Regions from separate parts of the Homo sapiens genome. Here region 2 is linked to region 1. The links come from fine-mapping of genetic effects on gene expression. A gene starts in region 1. The other region holds a variant in brackets. All regions are shown on one strand. Distances are from middle to middle. Region 1 holds the start of ACKR3 (atypical chemokine receptor 3). Region 2 has its middle 30 kb from the start of DRC11.

Evidence for each region. PIP is the estimated chance that this variant, and not a neighbour inherited with it, causes the effect.
Region 2: its variant is fine-mapped to the expression of ACKR3 in whole blood (TOPMed, PIP 0.92).

What each region holds. Positions count from the first base shown.
Region 1 is chr2:236,564,717-236,573,051 of GRCh38, reverse strand. It overlaps ACKR3 (atypical chemokine receptor 3), which reads right to left and starts at 3,227. Exons shown (of 2, transcript NM_020311.3): 1 at 3,128-3,227. RefSeq lists enhancers at 3,991-4,866, 4,867-5,742 and a silencer at 5,168-5,217.
Region 2 is chr2:236,533,066-236,541,400 of GRCh38, reverse strand. It overlaps a transcript of ACKR3 not described here. Among named protein-coding and RNA genes, the nearest start is that of DRC11, 30 kb to the right of the region's middle. RefSeq lists enhancers at 3,138-3,187, 4,291-4,510. The variant G/C (reference allele first, on the strand shown) is at 4,296.

The DNA of each region.
Region 1 (8,335 bases):
GTAGCTGTCTGTCCCCTCTGCTGCCAGCAAATGGAAAACAGTCTTGACTACACATTCACTAGTGACCGTGAGTGATCTTATTTTATGCAAGTACATAACTGCTTTGAATTACTTGAGAACGCAAAAAATAATAACTACAGAAAACTCTATATCCTGATTCAGATACAGTCCACCTCTTCCCAGGGTCCTTAGACATACTTCACATGAACACGTGGGACACCCTCGTCCACTTTAAGGATTTGGGGGATCAAATAAATCCCACGTCCAGAAACCTGATCTGGTCTATTGTGCTCAGCTGCCCGACAGGGAAGCAAAGCTATACCCACAAGAGCAGGTCCAGAGATTCCCACGTCACAAAGGCTGCCGTCTGGGCCGGCCCAGTGTAACCAGAGCCCTGATTCCCACCCAGCTTAGGACTAGGACGAGGCAGTGGGAGGTCAGCCAGGCTAGGAGAGCCTCCTCACCCCCGCCCTAAGCCAGACACAATGGGGTTCCCAGGAGGACACTGTGCAAACTTAGGCTCTGCATATACAACTGAGGGAGGATGGCCACATATCTGTTATAGCAGGAAAAGCAAAAGATGCTTACTATCTGGCTGACCCAGACTTCAAAACGCAAAGTCCCCCACACTGCCCTGGGCTCGTTATCTGTCCCTTTGCCAACAGTGGTTCAAGGCCACCTGAGATAGTCTCGGCCCCCATCCACTTTTTCAGTGCCTGGAACAAAACACAGTCTGCTTCCAAAACTACCTGTGGCTCTTTAAAATTGTCACCATAAAATTATGCAATTCCCTGATCACTTTAATATTGAAGCAATAGTGTTTTGTTTTGTTTTTTTCAATTCCAAATTAGTCGATAAAAGCATCAAACATTCCCTGAAGGAAACCATCAAATATTCAAAATCAGGGCCACCGCCTGCACGCCTCCCTGTCCTGATCTGTCTATTTCTGGCTTGCTTTCTTTTATTTCAACAGAAAATACGTGTCCTGGAGCTTTGTCTTTTCCTTCCTGAACTTTAGTAACACTTGACATGACACGATCTTTAGTTTCTTCCTGAATTATGCCTACACACGTGCAATCCAATTGAAGGCGTTTTAATACTATTCTTGCTTCTAATAATAAAACTAAGTTATTTGATTGCCTGGTTTAAAGGTACAAATGCCTTCTGGCCCCAGATTCCCCTCATGTTCTACAAAATCACAAAAAAAAAATCTAAAGTTTTGCAATCTTTGAGGTCTTTTTCTTTCCCCTCGGTTACTCTTAAGGTTTATAAAGTGACTGCCCTTCAGCCTCAGGTTTGAGTGACTTCAACCAATTTCCCTCACGTCGACTTGAAAACAGGAGCTCTCGCCCTAAAATGATCACACAAAAAGCCACTGTTCCTGATTAAGCAGGGTTTTTTGTTTTGGGTTTTTTTTTTTTTTTTTTTTTTTTCATTCAGAAAGCCTATACTTGGCCTGTTCTGGGCCTGATTAGAAATCATAATACCTTCTCAACGCTTCAACGACTTGCTGTTAATACGGGGAAAACACACCCCCAAAGCCCTGCGTGTGTCGCACAGGCATGCTGCCTTGGCGATGCTTTATGGAACTTTTTTAAAACTACGTCTGCAATGTCTGCCCCTTAAAAGAGAAAAGCTGATGGGCAGCAAACTGCAGCCATTTCTCCATCTTCCTTCGCTTTCCCACCCCCATCCTGGGCAGCTTTCCCCTCCCCCCAATCTCCTGGAGGTTGTGGCATTAAGCTCTGCAGTTGTGTGCACATTCAAGTGTTTATGGCAGAGACTGGGGAAAAAAGAGCAAATTGTTTCCAAGCTAGAGCTCCCATGTGCAACTTTGCTTTAGAAAAGACTTTCCATCTGGGGAAAGCTCATATTCTGATGAAAGAAGGGCAAGCAGTTTATCCATTTAAAATCTATGGAAAGTTAAAGCACAGAAACCAGCAGCCTCCACTTTCTTTGCTAGGCGTGCCTAGCTGATGTCCACATTTTTCCTGGAATAAATAAAGGGACACTAAAAGCAGCATCTGCCTTTAAAAAAGAAAAGAACAAAGTTACCATGTTGAGACTTTGCAGACTGAAGTTTCAGGGGATGTCACTGCACCAAATACATTCAAAGGGCTGTAAACCATTTAAGGAGGCTCTCTCCCACTTTTGAAACACTAAGTAATCCTGTTGTGAGCAAAAGGAAAGAAAGAAAGAAAGAAAGAGGAAGAGAGAAAGAGAGACAGCCAGTCTGACTTTTACAACTTCTCATTCTCCCTGGAAGTTACAAGTCTTGGCTAACCACCCATCCCTGACCTCACTCCAAAGTTCTCTCAGTCACTCCTTGAATCTTTGCACATGCCAACAAAATTGAACAAAATCCACATTTTACCTGAAGAGTATATTTAAATTGCAAAATAGTAGATTTGTGTGTGTGCTTCCCCCAACCCCAATTGAAGTTGGACTTAACACCTTCTAAGAGAACAATACTCAAATTAGATTAGCAAGCGTGCCATCAAGAGAAGAGAAGACCGGGCTGTGTTTAACATTCACGTTTATAGCTTCCGGACTTACAGACTCTGGTAAATCCCCCAAAGTACTGAATTCAAATACATCTTGGACTCACAAAGATTCTCAGCAGTTTTCTGCTCCATTTAAGGATGCCTCTTAATAAAGTGTTCATCATTCTGGAATTACGTATTTACTGCCAATTTTATCTGTTTCCAAACTGATATACTAGAAGCAAAACAGGTAAACAGTGGGTGCCAAGCTAATCCCCATGCCAAATTGGTCAGGCAGAATGGATAGTCTGTGTTCTTGCAAAGTTCCCCTGCTTACTGGAGCTTAAATAGCCACACAGCAAATAAACACCAGATTCCTAAATACACATGGAAATTTCCTTCTGCAAGTGACTTAAGAAAACTGCCCTTTGCTTTCTGAAGAGAAAGGTGAAGCCCTCCGAATTAGCAAAAGCACTTTGCAATGCAGCTGCGTGCAGCCTGGGTTTTCAGAAACCAGACCCGCAGACTCAAAAGCACCCATCTGAGCGATTTTAAAGAAGGCCTTTGAAAAGACCACTTGGCTTAAGAGCAGAAGCCGTGCCTTCTTTCCGAGCAGAGCTGCTGCCCGAGCACCGTTTCCTTACCTCCGGGCTGGCTGGGCTGGCTGGGCTGGCTGGGCTCGCTCGCCTTCCTGGCTGTGCTGTGCGCTGGCTCCCTTAGTGCTGAGCACTTTGCAACAACTGTGAGCTCTGCTGGCTGCAGACTTGCATTATATACACTGCAGAAAGGAGCCTCTAGCCTCTAGATGGCAGCTTTGTAACCCACATCTCTCTCTCCCCCGTGCCACCCCCATCCCACAGGCAGACACACACACACACACACCCCCCTCTTGTAAACCTCACTAGTCTGTTGTTTCCTGCACAAGTGTACTCTTGGGAAACCCCAGCCTTCTTTCATTTGCAAAATCTGGTGAAGCCACAAAGTCCAAACCCCACGGGGGGAAAACGTCAGCCAAAGACAAACTGCAAAGAAACCCTAGTGCTTGGCAAAATCATCAAATATTTATCTGGTCTCAGGTATATCTTGAATAATCCCATTAACACCAAGAGCTCCTGTGAATGCCTCTTCGCTCTAGGGAGGACTTTGTTCCCAAGACAAATTACTCTGAACTTCTGAACTTCGATGTTGATTTACTAAGCCTGGGTTTTCCTTGTTAATTCCTCCAAAACAGAAGTAACAGTTTTGGTATGACCAATGAATCGATGCCACACCGTATATCCCCAAAGTGGAGAAAAGAGTCTTTATAATAGATTATACTTGAATACTTTTATTTGTAAAGGACTTTAAGTACAAAATCCTTGAGACTCTAATCAAGATAGTATTCTACAGTGTCTGCCCAGTGCCAGACACGCATTAGGAAGATAATAAATGCCTTTTGATAATGTCTTTTTCTGAGATGAGTCTGGCAAACACTTTACTACAATTATTGCAATCTACATTCTTATTTGGATGCGTATTGCTAAAGTTCCCCCCACGGAGGAATTCAACCTAAAAATGTGATCCAGGTGATACTCATCTCCAATGCCCCATTTACAAAAATCGTCCATAAGATAGGGACCCAAAGGCCACCCGCCAGCCCATCCCATGTGCAATGCTCTGGCTTTCGTATTGCTTTCTGATCTCCTGGAGTTCTTAAAGAGCGGCTCAAGTGGAGTGTATGAAGGCACCAGCTGTATTCACGCCTTCTCCAGAGCTAAAACTTTTCGAGATTCTTTTTATACTTCTACTAAAAATAACAGCAGACGCTCGGTCCCAGCGCTGAATCTGGGGGACTGGGAGGTCAAAGTCTCACGTGGCTAGAAAGTCTCCGTGTGGAGAAAGCCCTTAACGAAAGAAATATTTTGTTTAGCTAAAAGCTTCACATTTTTCTCCTGAACTGGCTGCCCAGCGGGAGGCGAGGTGCACACCTGCTCTCCGGGGGCCTCCGGAGGGGTCGCCCTGGGGCCGGCCTTTCCCAGCCCGAGCGCAGCGTCCCGCCACCGCCTCTGCAGGGCGGCGCAATCACTCTTCGTGTCACATCGGCACCAAGGACATCTCCAGGCTCCCCAGAGACGCTGGAAAGGAAAACTGCCAGCGGCTGCGTCTACCCACACCCAAGATCTAGGCGAGACCTCGACTCTCCACAGCATACGTGTCCTGACTTTTTCTGTCCTGTTTCTTTCTTGTGGGGGACCCTGTGTCTGAGCCCGCTGGAAATGTACGGGGATCCCCTCTGGACTGCAGCTCGGTTTCCGCTTTCTGTGGCTGTAGCCGTGACTCCGGGGCCTGTCCTTCAGAGAACGCGCTCCGCATTGCAGAGCCTGCGCGCCCGGTGGAAACACAGAGTGGGTGTCAATCCGTTCTGAGCTAAGTGTACTGTCGCTGGAAGAAAGGCCACATGGGCCGGGGACCCCGGACAGGATGCTAACGTAGAGGAAGGAAAAGGCAACGCAGTTTTTTTAAAAAGTAGAACCCGCTTCGTGCGTCCGGGGCCAGAATCCACGAGGCCGCCTTGCAGCAGCCTGCGCCCTGCCCCGCCAGCCCCGGCCCCGCGCCCACCCACGGCCTGCACCCAGCCCCGCACCCACACACGGCCTCGCGCCCTCCCACAGCCCCGCGCCCTGCCCCGCACCCACCCACGGCCCGCACCCACGCCCTTCCCCGCGCCCAGACTTGTTCCGCACTCACGCACGGCCGGGCACCCGGCCCAGGCGCCTGCGAGAATTCTGGCCCCGGGGTCACCGCCCTCGCCCTTCGACGTCCCCCACCCGTCCCCTAGTTCCGCCGGGCGGGGCTGCTGGAGGCTTCCAGACGGGGAGGGGCGGACCAAGCGCCAGCGGGGAATGGGGCGGGGTGGGTCGGGAACTCTGGCCAGGCTCCCACCCTGGGAGGAGGAGCTGGGTGCTTGGGGCCTGAACTTGGCTGTCTCCTTGGGCCTCCCACCCTGTCCCAGAAAACAGGCCTGGGGGAAAACGAGAGGGTAAGCAAGCAGGGCTTTTTGAGAAAACGAGATTCCATTGCCCTAGGACCTAAAAGTCTCTTTTCAAAGTTTTGAAGAGTGTCTCTGCTTTTGGAAGATTGTGCTTTCAGTGTAAGGGCAGAACTCCACCTCCATCCTCTAGGGGTCCCGGCTGGGTCCGAGAATTAAATTGACATAAGATAGATGAATAGGAGGAAAGCATAGTGCAAGTTTCACGCGGCATGGGAGCCCTCATACAGAAATGCAGACCCGGCCGGGCGCGGTGGCTCAGGCCTGTAATCCCAGCACTTTGGGAGGCCGAGGCGGGCGGATCGCGAGGTCGGGAGTTCGAGACCAGCCAGGCCAACATGGTGAAACCCCATCTCTACTAAAAAATACAAAAAATTAGCCCAGCGCGGTGGCGCGCGTCTGTAATCCCAGCTACTCGGGAGGCAGGAGAATCGCTTGAACCCGGGAGGCGGAGGTTGTAGTGAGCCGGGATTGCACCATTGCAATCCAGCCTGGGTGACAGAGTGAGACTCTGTCAAAAGAAAAAGAAGGGAAGGGGGAAGGAAGGAAGGAAGGTAGGAAGGAAGGAAAGAAGGAAGGAAGGAAGGAAGGCAGGCAGGCAGGCAGGCAAATCCTCCTTGGGGAAAGAAAGAAAGAGGGAGAGACAGAGAGAGAAAGGAAGAAAAGACAGAGAGAGAAAGAAAGAAAAGAAAGAAAGAAAGAGGAAAGAGATGACGACCCGAACAAAGAAAGCAAGAAAGAAAGCAACAGAGAAAGGCAGGCCCTAGCAAAGAAAAGGAAGGAAGGAAGGAAGGAAGGAAGGAAGGAAGGAAGGAAGGAAGGGAAGGAAAGGAAGGAAAGAGGGACAGACCCGAGCAAGCAGTTCGCGTCCACTACTTAAATACTGGATTAAACAGAGAAGAATAAACTTTGAAAATGTGACTAAAAAGATTAGAGTGACGCTCTGCAGTATTCTTTAGCTGGCAGCTTCTAGTCCTAAGGATAAGGATGCTGTCTTCCTTCTGCTATGGGGAGAGTGATCTTGCACCTGCTGTTTTTCAAGTGCCTTTCACTGAAACAGTTACCATGCCAGAATGCATATTTTAACCTTTTCAGTAAGGTCCAATATAATGGTTCTTTTGGGTGGGAATGTGTTTGGTGGCACCTAATAGAAAACTCAGAGAAGGCACGAACAGGACGCTGTCCCTACCGCTGTCCCAGCTGACCCAGAACTAAAAGTTCCTGGATGTTTTGCTACCCCTGAGTGCTTATTGGAAAGGGGTCAGGAAGGGGTTTCAGCTAAGCTCCTCCCTCCTTCCCTGTCTGTAATCTGCACCTGGGGTTGCACGCCCCACAGGGCAGGTGGTCAGCTCTGTCTGCTCTGGGATCTGATTCGCCTGTAGATGTGGCACCACCAGGCTTCTTCCAGAAACCGCACCTGACTTAAAAGCGTGAGGATCCTGGCGGGCCAGAGCGGCGGCCGGTAGGGTCTGTGATCTGGGAGCCCCGTTAGAGTGGAGACAGTGCAGTTATGGTGACTGTGATATGAGCCCAGAGAGGCTCAGCTGCGCCGCTGGCCTGAGGACGAGGCGTTCCTCATTCTTGGAGTTGTGACCCTGGGAAGAAGCTTCATTATCTGGTAGCTGGGCATGGCAGGAGTCATTTCACCTGGGACTGGACGCTCCCCCAGAATAACCGCAACACCAAGCCCCTTCTGCAGGGCAACGGCTTAAAAGCAAAGACAGCCCCTCAACTCAAGGGAATTGGGTTCCTCTGTCCAGACAACCTGGCTTGGAACCCTGATATATACACACTGTAGGGGTGGGAAAAGTCTACCTCCCTCCTCTTAGGGTCCCAGCTGAGTCCAAGAATTTAATCCACATAAGATAGATTAACAGGAGAAAAACTTAATACAAACTTCACGCAGCACAGGAGCCCTCATAAAGAAATGAAGACCCCAAAGAAGTAGCTAAAGTCAGTTAATTATGTAGTGGATTGGACAGAGAAGAGTTAGTTGTGAAGAAGCCACTAAATTATATGGAGAGGCTTAAAAGATAAGAGTTATTTTTAACAAGATCTGTACAGAACTCTCCCAGTTTCGACTTTGACTATATAAAAATGTTGCATCATCTAGGGAGGGCATCTTTCACATAGGAATTTCACCCTCTGCTTTTAAGAAACAGCAGGAAGGTCAAAGTCATCTTGTTGCACCTGCTGTTTTTAAAGTGTTGAACTTAGTCAATACGCTGGAATCGCATATTTTAACCTCTTCAACACCATGTCTCCTCAGATAACAGCCTCTTTGAATGTTAGGTTCCTATCTTTATAATTATAATAGAGCCTTCTATTCTAGCTGGGTGCTTGTCAGGATTAAACGAGAGGATGCACATGAGTGGTTTCTTGCAGGTATCTAGAATGGCTATTTCTCTTCCGCTTCTCTCCTCTGTCCCCAGCCAAATTCCAGTGATAGCATACAGTTTTAAAGGAATGCAACAGATATACGTTCCAAGGCTTGACAACATTTTTGAACTCTCTGATGAAGTTTAGAAAGGTTTTATAGTCATAGGTAAATCTGAGTGTTCATGTTTTCCCATCTTTCTGTTAAGTATGTTGCCTATCTTCTTTCATTTTATCTTCACAGCAGCCATAAAGGTGGCACTGTCTTTGTCCCACTTTTGTAATTGAGGAAACTGAGGCCCAGAGAGACCAGGTGACCTGCCTAAGGGTGGCTGTGACTGAATGGCCATGGCGTTCCAATCCAAGCGTGCCCGATTTCATGGCACATGCTTTTACCTAGTACCACAGAAAAAATATATTCTTAAAAGAAAAACAATTGTAGAAACCT
Region 2 (8,335 bases), 32 kb after region 1:
TAGAAACTTGAATAAGGCTATGGGAGTGTGTCAGACGAGGGATGTTTCATGAACCACACGTTCTTTGGTATTTAAAAAAGGCTGAAATTCCTGGTATTAACACATAACCACTGGCATTTGTCTGTTGTGGTAACATTTTTGGAGCAAAAGTAGAAAAAGACTGAAAGTTAAGAAATTAGAAATGCAAAGTAAGCTTTATTTTTAAGAACTTTCAACAACTTATACTTTTATAATCTTATACGATTATTGCAGAGAGGAAGGGAAAATACATGTTTTCTACAGTGATATCAGGTAAGGATAGCCAGTCAATGCTTTTTTATAGATTAGCCCAGAGACAGGGTCAGAAACAGATCCAAGCCACTACAGGTACCAATGTAAAAATGTAGAGATGCTAGCAAGGAGCTGTGCAGTAAGATGTCCCCAGTTGTCTTGGCTTGGATTCTGCCAGAAAGTGGAGTAATCTATAACAGGTATTTGGGTACAAGTGATTTAAATACTTACTATAAAGTTACAATAATCACGACTGTGTGCTATTGTGTAAAGACAGATGTGCAAATTCATGGAGCAGGATAGACCCTAGAAACAGGCACACACATACATGATTGATCAATTTCCCACAAAGACACCAATGCGATCAATGAGGAAAGGGTGGTCTCTTCAGTAAATGGAGGAAAAATGTGGATAACCACGTGAGGAAAAAAATGAACCTCAACCCTTATTTTGCACCACACATTAAATTCATTCCAAATGGATCCTAGATGTAAATGTAAAAGATTAAATTATATAACTTATATAAGGAAATAAATGTTCTGTGACCTTGAGGCAGGAAGATTTCTTAGAACATGAAAAACACTAAACATTAATGTAAAAAATGACAAATTTGAGTTAATCAAAGTAAAACCTGCTGCTTTTCAAAAGACACCTATAAAAATGAAGAGGCAAGTCAGAGACTGGAGAAAGATATCTGCAAAGGGCTGGTGTCCAGAATATAGAAAGAACCCGTATAACTCAATAAGAAGACACATAACCTAACAAAAAAAAAAACAGACAAAAGACGAACACAAAATTTATTTACATACATGAATGGTCATTAAGCAAATGAAAAGATTTTCAACTGAATTATCATCAGAGAAACACAAATTAGAACCACAATTCTTAGACACTATTTTACAATTACTACAATAACTAAATAAAAACACAGACAACGTCGAGTGTTGGCAAGAATGAGGAACAAGTGGAATACTCACATATTGCTGGCCACAGTGTAAAATGGTACAGCCATTTTGGAAAACTGTTTTGCAGTTTCCTATAAAGTTAAATGTACACTTACTATATGATACAGTTGGCTGTGTCCCCACCCAAATCTCACCTTGAAATGTAATAATCCTCCTGTGTCAAGGACGGGGCAAGGTGGAGATAGTTGAATCATGGGAGCAGTTTTCCCCATTCTGTTCTCATGGTAGTGAATAAATCTCATGAGATCTGATGGTTTTATAAATGGGAGTTCCCCTGCACATGCTCTCTTGCCTGTTGCCATGTAAGACGTCCCTTTGCATCTCCTTTGCCTTCCTCCATGATTGTAAGGCCTCTCCAGCCATGTAGAACTGTGAGTCAGTTAAATCTCTTTCCTTTATAAATTACCCAGTCTCAGAAATGTCTTTATTAGCATCATGAGAACAGACTAATACAATATAAGATCCAGCAATTATACTATTAGGTATTTACCCAAGAAAAATGAAAATAATGGCTGGATGTGGTGGCTCATGCCTGTAATTCCAGCACTTTGGGAGGCCAAGGCGGATGCTCATGCCTATAATCCTAGCATTTTGGGAGGCTGAGGCAGGTGGATCACTTGAGGTTAGGAGTTCGAGACCAGCCAGGGCAACATGGTGAAACCCTACCTCTACTAAAAATACAAAAACTAGCCAGGCGTGGTAGTGAACACCTGTAATCCCAGCTGCTAGGGAGGCTGAGGCAGGAGAATTGCTTGAACCCAGGAGGCAGAGGTTCCAGTGAGCCGAGATCGCACCACTGCACTCCAGCCTGGGTGACAGAGTGAGACTCTGTCTAAAAAACAAAAAAAAAAAAAAAAAAGAAAAGAAAAATGAAAATAATGTTTACACAAAGAGAGAGAGAGAGAGAGAGACACACACACACACACAAATGTGTCTATCAAAACTCATAGAAGTATTATTCACAATAGACAAGAACTGGAAACAACCCAAAGGCCCATCCAGACGTGATAATAAACTGTAGTATTTTCTTACAGTAGAATACTACTCAATAATAAAAAGGAACAAACTACAATAGAGGCAGCAACAGGGATGAATCTCAAAATAATATACCAAGTAAAAGAAGCAAGACACAAAAGAAGGCATACTGCATCATTCCAGCTACATGAAGTCCTAGAACCTGAGAGCACAATCTATAGCCCTGACCAGAAAGGTGAGCCAACACAGCCTGTCCGCGCCTACTTTGCCCTGAGCTAGAGTATCCAGGCTTAGCAAATAAAAATACAGGATGCTCAGCTAAGTTTCAATCTCAGGGAAACCACACATCACTTCTTAGGATAAGAATATCCCAAGCAATATCAGAAATATGCATGACATCTACCTGCATGGAACATACTTATACTGAAAAACTATTCCTTGTTCATCTGAGATTCAATTTTAATTAGGCAGTCTGTATTTTATCTGGCAACCGTGCCTACACTGTAGTTTGCTGTTGGCTTTTTAAGGGCAGGGCAGATATCTACTCATCAAGAGGTCCACTAGACTTGGTCTTACCCCAGCCACTTCTCAGAAGACAGAAAGCAAGCTCTGCCCCGGTCCACCTTAGAACTGCAGCCCCTTTCCATGCTTGGGGCCAGTTTTGCCATTGATTTCTCCAAGGGACTCCTCAGTAGGAGGGTGGGGGTGGCAAGTCTTGCCATCCATCCAAGGTCAGGGTGGTGAGCCCACAGCACCTGGCTTCCGCTGTGGCCACAGACAGAGCCCAATCTCTGACTCGGATGGATCCTTTTGACCACGTTTTTAGTATTTCAAGTTGTGAAAATATATCATCACTGTGTTGCTGTTTCATTTCGGCAATCTGTGTCTGTTCTGCTTTTCTTTTCAGGAGACATCTAAAGCTCCTGTTACTTTGCAGAACACACTCAATAACAGTTAATCAAGTCAGGGATTATGGCCACACAAGGTTTTTAGCAAGTTTCTGAGAAGTCAAATACCAGGTGTGATGTGTGCTAGTATTAACCACGCTGCCCAAGGAAAGGATCTGGCTTATGTATATTGCTTTTCACGCTAGAAAAAAAAAAGAAAACAAAACCTCTTTGAATCAAGACCTGTTAAGAGTTGTTTGGGGAATTATTTTTAAAAGAACTATTCTTTTTGGAATACCTACTTCCAACATAAACACTTTCTTATTAGGTTATTTTTATTTTTCTAGCCTAGCAACTAAAAAAATGTAATCTGCAGAACTGATTGCCTAATAGAAGCACATTTGCTTGCTTGCTTGAAAGAGCATGAATACGCATTAGTGAAAGAAAGAAAACTGAATTTGATAAGAACATTAACCCTTTTGGAGAAAATGCAGACAAAAGTAAAGGCGGTGGAAGAGAGCACGTGGGTGATGAAGCTGGGACACATTTTCCCTCCCTCCAGTTCTTGGAAAATTCCTAATTCTGGCTCATAAGTAATAGTAGCAAAAAGGTAAAAACATAAAATTAAAGCAGCCACGTAAAGAGGCAAAATTCTTGGGATTTAAGCCATTCAGAAGGACAAGTTGTCCAGGTCTCAATGTGTACAGAGATATCCAAGGGGCCCTGTACCACTTGCATTTATGCCAGGGTGGCCCAATGGAGAACTGCTGTTCAAACTTCAGGGTCATGGATTATTATGACACTAATAAAAATGATGAACCTGCTTCCTAGAAAAAAGCATATGCACCCATGGGCCCATACATTTACAGGCCATTCGAGAGGCTGAGACACTGCCCCAAGCCTATTCATGGAGCCCTGGTAACAATCCTTGTACTAGGCAAAACCAGCCTCCTTACCAGCTTCTGCCTCCTCCTGGCTCATCTCCACCAGCCGCTCACACTTAGGACCAAGGCAGGCTGCCCCTGGGCTTGACCTTGGCCTCCTCCATTCTCCCTGTCAGCAGGTGGCAGCCATCCCATTGCTGGTATTCCTAGAATCCAATCAGGATTAGTAGACCGCTTGCCACAGTGCTACACAGCCAGGTAACACCGTGTTTAACCAAGCAGTGGTGAGAGATTTGGGGCAGGAAAGGGGCTGA[G/C]CTTCTGCAATGCAGACAGGCAGCGTGGAGCCTCCCAATACCACTTCCTGCAGGGCCCAGGGCAAGGCCCTTGCTCTCTCTGAGTTTCTGTGTCCTCATCTGTAAATGGGAATAATAACAGTGACTGCCATAGGAGCTGCAAGGAGGATGAGATGATATTATGCATATAAAAGTGCCAGACAGTCTCTAGGCACCTAGAACCCTCAAGGGGCCAGCTGTCATAACTGCCGACAGTTCACATGCGTCTGTGTTTCACTATTAGTTTCACTTCACACCTGCAGAGGGATTTACACACTGCAAGGCATTTCCTTTGGAAATTTATTATTGTAATTCCCTATTAACTCACAATACCCAGGAGATAGGAAATAAATTATTATTCCCATTTTACAGGTGAGAAGACTAAGACTCAGATAGATACGTTAGGTGAGTTGCTTTTCTTGACTCCCAAAGCTGGTACCTTCCCCCGGAATCAGGTCATCTAGCAGAAACCCAGGAATTGAAGGTGATCAATGTTCCCTCCCCCAGATAGAAAGACATGGGTTACCCACAAGCTACAACCAAGTTCATGAACAGTGCAGAAGCCTTTCTTGTTCCCGTCATATCACAGAGCTCTCTGCTTGAACTCAACGTCACGGCTTCTCATCCCACCTTTTACTCCAGCCACTGTGGCAGCAACAAGCTTCCTGCAGGAGGTACCTGTGGGCACCTTTTCTATGACACACGCATGGTGCCCACACAGCCTGGGAATGACTCTGTGTGGCAGCCCTGGACCAAGGGAAGGCATGTACTGGATGACGGCTCCTCCTTCTGTCCTCAGGCAGACCACTCTGAGAGGCAAGTCCCCCCCAGCTCCTCAGTGCCCAGTGGATGGGATCCGGCAGCCCACAGTGGCGGCCAGCCTGAGGAAGCACTGTGGAAGACCTTGCCCTTCTCCCCACTTCACTCTCTCAGCCCTGCTCCTGTTCCCTGATATGAGCTCCCCGAACAAACCCCATCATGCTAGGCCTAATACCTGGGAGGAACCCAGTCTCCAGCAGGAGCCCTTGCTCTTGTCTGTCTCCCTTTCCTCCCACTGCCCTCCCCACCATCCTCTGCACCCACCTCCCTCTGCTGGCCCAGCTAGGGGAGCCTACCGGACACCAAGAAAAACCTGTCTTTATAAAAGCTGCTGTGACTCAGGACTCAGAAGGTCCCCTACTCCACTGGGGCCTATCATGAGGTAGAGAATGGGAGGAGAGAGAGGACCAGGAAAAATAACAAATGCGTACTAGGCTTAATACCTAGGTGATTAAATGATCTGTACCACAAACCCCCCTGACACAAGTTTACCTATGTAACAAACCTGCACATGTACCCCTGAACTTAAAAGTTTAAAAAAAAGGACTCCCCTCCCAAGGGACTGGATCCCAACATCAAAGTTCCATGACTGATTGCCTGACATCAGCACTCCCCTTCCTCTGGAAGGCCCCAGCTTGAGATCCGGGCTTTCTTCCGTCATGGCCAAGCCAACTCTGCGGGGACAGAAGCACTGCTCCTAAACCCCCACCCCAGGGCTTCCGCCTTTCCACCCAAGGCGAGAAGCCAGCAACCTTCCCCAGCTTCCCTCGGATTCCTCCTTCCATGCGTGACCTTGATGGGAGGCCCTGACACTTCAGCCAGGGTAGTCTGGTGCCAATCTTGACTGGAGTCAGACCCACAGGTAGCTGATTTATTGGAGATAGAGTCTTCTTAGCAAGCCTCCACTTTCGGTTGATTCTACACCCAGGGCCTCACACACACCCATGCCTGCCTCATCCTGACCCACGGGTACAACACCAGGTTCATATCTGCCATGTTTGCATCAAGCACACCGCCAAGCTCTGCCTGTGAAACATTAGAAATACAATGAGTAATAACCACAGCATTCCCTGGCCTGGCTCCAAAAACACTGCATTGCTCCAAATCTGCTCCATCCTAGACCCCCAACCCAGTTTCCTGCTGAGGTTTCGGCTCTCTTCCTGACCCCTTCCGTGAGTGAGAAAATATGTGAATATGGAACTACAGGACTGGAAACAAGCATCCACATTTGCTAGAAAGTTTCCTCCTCAGAGCCGGAAGGGCCTGGAATCCTATGGAATTCAGAATAACCAGAAATGGACAAAACCTCCACTCGAATGGATGAAATTCCCCTGAATAATAATGATGGGAAATTGCTTGCCGTGTCCCAACAAGCCTTAGTGGGTCCCGCGGAAGGAGGCCATGGGGATGGAGCTTCTCAACCCCAACTGTCCCCTGTGAAAGCCCAGCCTGGCTTCTTTTTAGTTAGGATCCCAGCTGCATCCCAAGAGGCTGTCCAGGTCATTGCCCACTTTCTGAGCTGGGAAAACTCTAAATTCTAGCCATAGCGCCATACTATATCTGAGTAGTACATAGAAGAATCCTATGCCAGGCCATGAAGGACGAAAGAGACCCTCAGGAAGGCCACAGAAACACAGATTGTGAAAAAGCCTTTCCTTCACCATCAAATCCTTATATCTGTCTGTCCACCATTTTTGTCTAACCACTCAAGTCCCAGTAGTGGTAAGACCAAGACTCAAATTCAAGAACAGACCTCTTTTCCTCCTCTCCATCCTAACCAGTTGAAGAGAAATCCAGGAGAATTAGAACAGAGATCTCCCATTAAAAACACTTCCAAGATATTGCCTCAACTTGTTGAGTTGGAAAGGACTCAGCAACAACTTTCTCAGGCAAGTTGACTCCGAGGAAAACGAAGCAAATCATCCACATTAAAAGCTAGAATTCTTTGGAGGTGCTGCCTTCAAAGACCCAGTCCTTACAGTAATTCCACCCAAACATATTTGCCAAGAATTTCCTTCCCATCAGGCAACTCGCTCTCGGGGCTGGAGACATAAAGGGAAGGGACCCCATGCTTTTCATGTAGGAGACCCACGTGTTTCCCTGAGATCCCAAGACTGAGTCTTGTATGACAGTGGGACTGAGCAGGATAAAACCAAACACTTATGAACACCAGGGTTTGACGGGTAGCAATGCAAAGGCCCCAAACACCAGAAAGCAGAGCAAGGCCAGCGATTGCTGACACGTCAGCCATAGAAGTTGCAGAGCCAGGAGAGTCAGAGCTGGAGGAACCGAGGGCAGCAGGGGACAACTGTGAGCCACATCTCCCCACCTGCTCCCTGTTGTGGTCCTCCTGCTGTCCCCACACAAAGCCCATCAGCAAGAGGCCTGGCCTGGATGGGGAAGCAGATTGAGCCCAGACATCCTTGGTCCAAGAAAAGTAATCTTTAAAGTATACTTGGTTAGTGTTACTTTTATGAACTAGGCTATTTTTTATACAATTTTTAGCAAATATACTACATAAAGGGGAAATTTTCCCTAATATTTTAGGGAAGGTAACCATCACCATGCCATTGTCATGTGATAAACTACTTGTCACAAGGCCACTGTACGACTGTTCAGAGTTTGGTGCCTTTAAATCTGATCCCCATGGACCACACGCTAGAAGATTCCAGTTGGCAGAAGCATGTGATGCCATGAAACTCAGCAGGACAGGGACAAGGCAGCTGTTTCCTGTAGGGCTGTGCATCTCCACAGTGAGTGCTCGCCCAACCAGGCTGTCTCTGCTCTTCCATGAGTGGGATGAGAAGTGTTACAACCTGCAAATGCTTCCGATGGAAAGAGCCTTTGGGCTTCCTCTACCAGATCTTCTGGAGGTGGGGGTCTCAGCAGAAGCAGCTGACTGAGAACCATGATATTTCTTCTAATGGAAATGGGACATTTTTGTGGATGAGTGTTTGGGGGTCACACAAAAGGAGTTGTCTGATCAGTTTATAGATGTACAACGTGTCATATGGGTTCCTAATCAAGTCATCCTCAGGTAAGACTGGCACTAGATGGGGTAAGCGGTGTTCATGCCTCAAACCTATCAATGGCTTCACTTCACTTAGGCAAAACCAGACCTCAACCTACCCACCATCTCCTCTTCACCTTTAAAGAATAATCAGCAAAGATGTGCTCATCCATCTGTCCACTCATCTATCCAT